2 separate regions of the Homo sapiens genome follow, and region 1 is linked to region 2. Evidence: fine-mapped expression QTL. A gene starts in region 2. The other region holds a variant in brackets. All regions are shown on one strand. Distances are between the middles of the regions.

What was found. PIP is the estimated chance that this variant, and not a neighbour inherited with it, causes the effect.
Region 1: its variant is fine-mapped to the expression of PTPRO in whole blood (TOPMed, PIP above 0.99).

Annotation. Positions count from the first base shown.
Region 1 is chr12:15,544,326-15,548,724 of GRCh38, forward strand. It overlaps PTPRO (protein tyrosine phosphatase receptor type O), which reads left to right. Exons shown (of 27, transcript NM_030667.3): 13 at 2,244-2,383. The region is part of intron 1 of LOC105369672 (a long non-coding RNA gene); the gene reads right to left. Among named protein-coding and RNA genes, the nearest start is that of PTPRO, 220 kb to the left of the region's middle. The variant C/A (reference allele first, on the strand shown) is at 2,239.
Region 2 is chr12:15,319,868-15,324,266 of GRCh38, forward strand. PTPRO (protein tyrosine phosphatase receptor type O) reads left to right here and starts at 2,641. Exons shown (of 27, transcript NM_030667.3): 1 at 2,641-2,934. The coding sequence starts at 2,860. The region is part of intron 2 of LOC105369673 (a long non-coding RNA gene); the gene reads right to left.

The DNA.
Region 1 (4,399 bases), 220 kb after region 2:
AACCCTGTCTCTACTAAAAATACAAAAAAATTAGCTGGGCATGGTGGCATGCGCCTGTAGTCTCAGCTACTCAGGAGGCTGAGGCAGGAGAATTTTTTGAACCCGGGAGGCAGAGGTTGCAGTGAGCCGAGATTGCACCACCACTGCACTCCAGCCTGGTGACAGAGCGAGACTCCATCTCAAAAAAAAAAAAAAAAAAAAAGATTAAAGGAAAAGGTAACGAGTTTTTAAAAGATATGCTCTCTGGGACTGAGAAATAAGGGAAGAGCCTCAGAATTGTGACTGAGGAACAATTCTGTAGTGTGCATTTTTAAAAAAGAAAAGCCTAGGCTCAGCCTAACTAATCATTCATCTATGCCCCCAAACAACTTCACACTTGGTTCTATAGATTCAAGTTCCACATGAGTCAGAATCCCTAAAGGACATAATCCTATTAGCAAAGGCAGTTATAAAGGAAGTGAGAAGTGGAAATTGACCTCTGTGTTTCATTAGCAGTCTTCCTCAGAGCAGAAGTGGGACAATACAATGCCTGGAGGACTGGACAATTCATTGCAAGTGAAAAAGGGCTCCTGACACCTATTGTGAATTTTGCTTGCCTAAGAAGAACTCATCTCTTTCCTCCTTCAACTCTTCTGCCTAACCTTGTCAAGTTGCTGCAGGAAAGAAACATGCTTCTTTTTAGTTGGACACAAGTTTAGGAGATCTGTGATAAATCATGGCAAGAATGATTTTGACATACTTCTTGGTCCTGGGCAGAGTCACAATGATGATATTCTAGAAACAAGGTTCAAATCTTTCCACACAAAGATGTGTACCTGTCAAAGCAGTGAAATGGCTGACAGGACTTTTTCAAGCACCTCTAAAGGACAGGAGCTGGAGAACAGACTTAGGAGAGTGGGGCAGAAAATGAAAAATCCAAGTAACAAGCAGGAAGAAACCTACAACAGTGGGTAGTCGTCTGACAGGCGCATATAGGTGGATGGAGGATGCTGTTATGTGAACCTAGCAGCAAGGTACAATATGTCCAAATAAGCAATGTCAGGGGGTCTGAGAGCAGGTAACAGGGACCCCAGCTTAAAACCTTGAGTTCAGGCACAGCACTCTGCATACTGGGGGACCTAGAGGGAAAGACAACATCCAAAAGACAGGGTCACAAGCAGAAGACCAGGAGACATTCAGGAATGGAGAATGAGACAGCAGATGACTATTAGAATTGAGGAACAGGCAGGGTTTTTTGGTCTCAAGAGAGCAATGCCAGTGACTCAATTACTAGAAATAAGTATGAAAAGGACAGACAACACAGCTTCCTTTACGAATGGATTTATTTATTATTAAGATAAAATGTCTAAGATAAAAAATTTATCTAATGTTTTATTAATCTTCCAATCCCCTCCTATCAATTCTTTTCTTAAAAAATTATATTATCAGCCAGGCACGGTGGCTCACACCTGTAATCCCAATACTTTGGGAGGCCAAAGTGGGTGGATTGCTGGAGCCCAGGAGTTTGAGACCAACTTGAGCAACATGGCAAAACTCCATCTCTGCAAAAAATGCAAAAATAAGCCAGGTAGTCCCAGTTACTTGGGAGTCGAGGCAGGAGGATCACTTGAGCCAGGGAAGATGAGGCTTCAGTGAGCTGTGTTCGCACTACTGCACTCCAGCCTGGGTGACAGAGTGAGACCCCCGCCTCAAAAAAAAAAAAAAATGATACTATCTGTTTAGCTTTATCTTTTTAAATTTTGACTAAATTTTCAAGCAGCCATTTTTCTGTCTGAATTGTTCCAGATAGTTTCCAGAGAAAGGAAGACAGGTTGTTGGCTAAATACCAAACTGCATCTCATCATTAGAAGGAAGCACACCAAATTTCATTTTTCTCCACCTTTATTAAGTGCAGATTTTTGTTTCTCATCCAGGAAGTTCTGTATTATCAGGGCAATGCTAACTTCAGTATAAATGACACAGAAACTATTAATAGATTATGACTATGATGAAACTGAAGTAGAAAACAGAAGTGTTCTGAAAAGAGAAGTAAAAAAATGGAAGGGGGAAAAGGCAAAGTATTCTGCCTTCCAAGTTAGATAGCTATCTTTATGAAAGGACATATTTCAAAGGCAATATAAAGTCTTTATGGTGCTCTTACCTACCTATATTTGAATTGGGGGATGCTTCACCTGCTTATTAGTGAAAGAAGAAAGAATACACTTAGTAAATTAAATTTTTTTTAAAACTTTGTCTTTG[C/A]TCAGAACCAGCTCCACCCAAATCACTCTTCGCAGTGAACAAAACCCAGACTTCAGTGACTTTGCTGTGGGTGGAAGAGGGAGTAGCTGATTTCTTTGAAGTTTTCTGTCAACAAGTTGGCTCCAGTCAGAAAACCAAACTTCAGGTACTGTACCTTTTGATCTACCTTTTCTCAGTTAACTTAAGTAAGGCTAATTATCTGGGCAAAATAAGAATCTTCTATTTCTTTGAGCTATATAAAATGAAAACTGTTTATTTGCTCTTTTGTGTTTCACTGATAGAAATTAACAGCAGGCTTAGACCAAGCCCAAAAGTTGTTATGAGAACTTTTATCTTTGTCTGTATCACTTGTTCCTAATTCATAAGTCACTCCAGGTCAGACAAAGGAATAAAGGTAGTAGGCCATTGAATTGATCAAGGGAAGAAAGACCCTACAATATAAAATATAATTTAACAAATATGAACCATTTGCCAAGTATATAAAGGCACTGAATAGAACACACATGATAGAATCAATATTTGCCTTCAAAACATTTTTATATGGTGTAGACATTGCATAAGTATAGAAAAAAGTAAAGTAAAATATAAGTACCACAAGACAGGTCCATTCGACCAAGAGAATTTAAAAGAAACGTGCATATCTAGTTTGTAAGGGGGACAGTCTTATTGCAAAATGAAGACTGAGAGAAGGTTATTGCTAAAGCTCTAGAATTACAAATGGCAGATACGATAAACAGAGTTATTCACCAGGTCAGAATGAATGAAAGGAAAGAGATGAACCTGCAGTTCTATGAGTGGCAACGCCACAAGGAAAAAATATTTCACAGCCAGAAGTGAAAGGAAAAGGACAGATTTGTTAGGGATTTTACATAATATAGTGTGTAGACTAATACTGCGAACATAAGTAATTGATCTTTTTTAAATAATGAAGTTCATGAGATTGAGAAGAAAAAAGGAATGCTGGGAGTGCAAATCTTTTCATATTGAATGCTAAGATAATTTGCTTTGATTCCTTTCTCCTTTTGAGATTCCCTTCTATGAATGTATCTCTTGTTGATTTGTACTGAACAGCTGAATTTTCTCTATTCTAAGAATCCTTTTGGAAAATAACTGCTCTGCCAATAATGGATTTTCTTCTCTATAACTACAGTGATGCCTTCCTTTAAGAAAACAATGGTTAGTTAGCTACTTACTACAACTGAGTCCTGTTAGCAAAAGTCTTTCCTTAGAATAATTCTTTTATAGAATAGTGAAAGAGAAGGAAGTGGAAGAAAATGCTGATGGCTCTCATTTCTTTATGCAAGGGTGTTTCAAAATCTTGTTTTGAAAAAAATGCTGGCTCATCTTTTGCTGTTGTACAGTAGTACTTGTCACTAGTCTGGCCATGGGTCCACCAAGTTAGCAACTTCTTTGACTCAAGAATAAGTTAATACTAAATGTTTCTTAGTGCGGATAGTTGCCATGTTTTAGTGGATGTTATATAAAAGCTAAGAATGCAGACAAAGGTGTAGTGTCCTTAATATATAAAGAATTGCTACAAGTCAAAAAAGGTAAAGGTCAACAACCCAAAACAAATATTTCATAGAAAAATACAGAAATCTCTTGAACAGATGAAAACTTCAGCAACCTCACTTACGGTAAAAAAAAAATGCAAAATAAAACTACAATATACAATTTTCACTAGTAATAATGGGAAAGCTCAGAGTTTGCAAATGTATGGTACTGGAAAGAATGTAGGGAGGCAGGCATTGTCACGCATTGATGCCAAAGGTGAGTAACTTGCAAAATGTCTGTAGAGAACTATTTTTCTATAGCTTTCAAAATTTTAAATGTACACTTTTTGACTCAGCAGTTCAAAGAATGTGACACTAGCAAAGAATATATGAGTATATGTGTATGTGTGTACGTTCACACATATATACATATTACATGCATATATTGTGTGTATATATGTGTGTATATATATGTGTGTGTGTGTGTGTGTGTGTGTCTATATGCATATGTGTGTGTCTTCCCAAATTTGTGAAATGAAGTTCATTGTAGCATTGTTTGCAATAGCAAAAAATCAGAGACCATTTACACATTCATCAACCGGGGCTCATTAAATAAATTATGGTATGTCCTTTCAACGGATTTCTGTCCAGCTCTTAAAAAGAATAAA
Region 2 (4,399 bases):
AATAAAATAACAACAATGCCAATTACTAATGCTTTACTACTTACTGTTTACTGTTATTGTTCCTCCAAAGTGGTCCACATAATATATATATATATATATATATATATACATATATATATATATGCACAAAGACAGAAAGAGCTGAACAAATTGTGATGTATGACTAAGAGAAAAACAGAAAGACGCAGCAGAATATGATTATTTAAAAGGGAGCCTCATTGTGAAAGTTCTTTTAGCATTTACAAGATTAATTTATGATCAGAACTGCTTTAAACGCCCTACGCACATCAGGCAAGGCTATATCCATGTATACACACAGACATATGCATACACACAAATGAATATCATCATACAGACCCATAATTCACAGACACATTTTAAAATTAAATGCTACTCCAAAGAGAAATTGTTGGCATCCTGTGAGTGTGATTGTTGCCCTTGGCCTATATATATCTTATGTTCTAGAGATTAGATCACTTTACAGCCACTTCTGAGGGCGAGTGGGAATAAAATGCTGCTTCAGGAGCGTCAAAATAAAAAGAAAACATATTAAACCAAAGTTCCTATAAGTGCAATCCCAAGGATTAAATGTTCAGATAGCCCGTAAGTCTAACCCAGAGGGAGGGAGGAGCAGTTAACATTTTCTCAAAAGAAAGAAAATGTCCAAACCAATGATGAGTGGACATGAGGGACCTGAAGAGAGCATGTGATGGGAATGTGAAAACAAAAGAAGCTTCTAAAAGAAGACACCAAGGATAATATTCTCACAAAAATTCAGACCATCATTCTATATTTTCATGCATATGAATTTTGGTACATATTTCATGCATATGAAATTTGGTACATATATACATATATGTACCATGCATATACATATGCGTACATATACATATACGTATGCATACACATATGTATCTATGTACACACATACACATATGTGTACACACATATGTACATGCACACACATATGTGTACACATATGTACATGCACACACATGTGTGTACACATATGTACATGTACACATATGTGTACATGTACACATGTGTATATATACATATTCACACTTATGTAAACATATTCAATCTAAAGCTTCCTTAAGACACATACAAACAACAACCAAATGATTAGTGTTTGGCCATTGCTCATGCAGCAAAAGCTGAGTAAACACAGCTCTGGATCCTTTTCTCAGGCCACCACTCCCTAGCTGTGTGACTGACAAAGTCTATGCCTGAACACCTACATTCATGACCAGGGTGGCCTTTCCTGTCTCCTGTTGCCCAAGCATGTCTCAGGTATAAATAAGTTCCAATACTGACAGGGCACAGCAAGGGTAATTTACATGACAATAAGAAATGATTTCTATCTGAACAGTGCATACCAGAGTTGATTTCGACAGACTTATCTTTAAAAAAATACACATAACAAAAAAGGAGACAAGTAGTAGATTGGGGACCCACAGCTTGAAAGTCGTTGCTTGTGATTCTAAAACATCCCAGTAAAATTATTCACAGATAATTGTTTAAAAATATAACTGTACATACCGTTGACACTTGGACAACACAGAGAATCACGTAGTTGAAAATCCACATATAACTTTGAACTCATCAAAACCTTAACTACTAATAGCCTACTCTTGACCGGAAACCTTACTGATAACATAATAAACAGTTGATTAACACACATTTTGTGTTGTATGTATTGTATACTGTATTCTTACAATAAAGTACGCTAGAGAACAGAAAATATTATTAAGAAAACCATAAAGAGGAGAAAATACATTTATATTCATTGAGTGGAAGTGAATTATCATAAAAGTCTTTAACGTCATCCTTTTCAGGCTGAGCAGGCAGAGGAGGAGGAAGAGGGTTTGGTCTTGCTGTCTCAAGGCTGGCAAAGGTGGAAGAAAATCTGCATATAACTGGACCCAACAGTTCAAACCCGTGTTGTTCAAGGGTCATACATGTAAAATACTGTGATTTTTCCCCCTTCTATATTCAGCTTCAGGTGACCCGACACACTTTGGTATCAAAAGAGAATCTGAAATGTACAAGAACTGCGGATTTCAAATGGAAAAGGTGCATAATTGTGCTATTTGTTCCTGGGTGAGTGTGGGACGGAGACGGTGAGAGTGTTGAAATGGGATGGAGATAATGGAAGCAGTGGGGAAGGAGAGAAAATACCCTTCCTATCACACACACTCACACACTCACACTACACACTATTTCTACAGTCACAACTACCCAACTGTTATTGATCCTTTATAACTGCAATTGAGTACAGATGTAGGAAGATTGAGAGGGAACTGGGATCTGGCGCCTGGATTGCTCAAGAGAGGTCAGGGAAACCCCTCAGAACTCCTGAGACCCAGAGATTGAGGGAGGGGTTGAGGCGGAGTCTGCAATGGGGGCTGTCCAGCAGTAGCAAGCAGCGGGCCGATCCTGGTGGAGGGTTGGGAGGCTGCTGTCATTTTATGGGTCGGCAGCCAGAGTGAGAGTGTCCCTGCTGCCAGAGGACTACGGCGGGCTGGGCGCGGGGTCCCCGCCTCTCGCTCACCACACAGACCCCGCGCCTCCTCTGGCAGCCGCGGTGGTGGCGGCGGCAGAGCCTCGCCCACTCCAATCCCCACCCTCTCCATCCTTAGTCATTAAAGAACAGCAGCGCCTGGCACGTTCTTGGAGGACCCCGGGCGCAGAGGAGGAAAGGGAGCAGGCGCAGGGGGACTGGAAAGGCAGCATGCGCTCGCCAGGAGCAACCTCGGCGCCCAGGGTCTGAGGCTGCAGCCCCAGTTCGCCATTGTGAGCCGCCGCCGGGGGAGTCCGCTAGCGCAGCCGTGCCCCCGAGTCCCCGTCCGCGCAGCGATGGGGCACCTGCCCACGGGGATACACGGCGCCCGCCGCCTCCTGCCTCTGCTCTGGCTCTTTGTGCTGTTCAAGGTAGGGGAGCTCCTCCACCCCTTTTTCCCAGCGGTCCGGGCGGCAGCCGCGCTCCGGCGCCCTCGCTCTGCCGTTGGGAGCGGCGCGCCCCAGGGCACGATGGCCCAGCCGCGGGAAGCGCCTGCCGTGCAGCCTGGGCGCACGCTTTGTTGTCCTCGCGTGTGCGTGTTCCTGGTGGTCTTGAGAGGTAGGGGGCGGGGGGAAGAATAAGGGAAGTTTGCTCCCTCCGGCTTTCGCCCTTTGTGCTCTTTTATCGCTGCTGAAATCCACATCAAAGGTGGGCTTGTTGGATCGTGCTTTCTCAGGCAAAATGAGGTCACTTTCTTTTCTGGTTTCCACTGCACCCCAACGCTGCTTAACCTTTCCGCCCTCCCTCGCACAGAATGCTTTGTCTTAATTTTCCTTACTGCTGGAATTATACACTGGAGAGTGGAGGGGGACTGAGCTCCCTGGACACAAATGGACTGCCAGGGCTACGTTAGGGCAGAATTTTCTTTGAATAAGGAGTGTCAGGTAGAGAGCTTGGTAAGGATTCCTCTCCCCAACTCCTATCAACATCTTTACAATTCCTTTTAAAAAGTCTCCAGACTTTCTCCACTATATTTACAGATGATATTACCCCTAGATTTAATGGTGGAAAAATATATAATAATAAACTTTTTCGTATCTTCTTTGGAATGTGCTACCCTGAGGTTTTACTTTGAGAAAAATGAAAAGCAAAGGAGTTGCTTTTGAAAAATCAGTTTGACAACTATACTGTACATAAATTTTTTTGAAGAAATGTCAGCTAGATGTTTTCTTGGACGGCGATGTGAAGTTCTGAAGTGATTGTCTATCACTCATGTCTTCAGTGGATCTACTTTAGTTCTGTTGTTAGTCTTTTCCTCTCTCCGCAAAGCAAACTCAAGAATGTCGACAGGTGACTTGGAGCTATCCTTTCAGGACCACAGTGATACCTTCCCTAGAAATGGATGCCAGGTTAATGGATCCAAAGGTTTTCTTATTATAGAGTCACTTCTTGCTTATATGCACCATTAATTATGAATGCCTAAAAAGAATATAATGGAACAGGACCAATGGATTAAGAACAGCATTACTTTTAAATACTCCATATTTTCATTTATCTTAATGAAAAATATAAAAAAAATTCAGGGAGAAACAGCAACAGAATGCCTAAGTAAGACCTTAAAATATATTTAATATGTTTTAACATTTTTTCTTAAATTATCAATAATCATTAATTTTAAAGTATGGTAAATAATAAGCTCAGTTATATGTTTTTACTGTAGGAGGTTGTTCTTTCATACACATCATAAATGCATTAGACTTATTAGGTTGTCTATTAGTCGTTTTCTAACTATTTATCAAACTGTCACAACTATTTTACCTATGCAATAATTGTCATGAACCAAAAATTAGAAACCAAGTCACTATGCATTTTACGAGCAACAGCTAAGAGTTATAT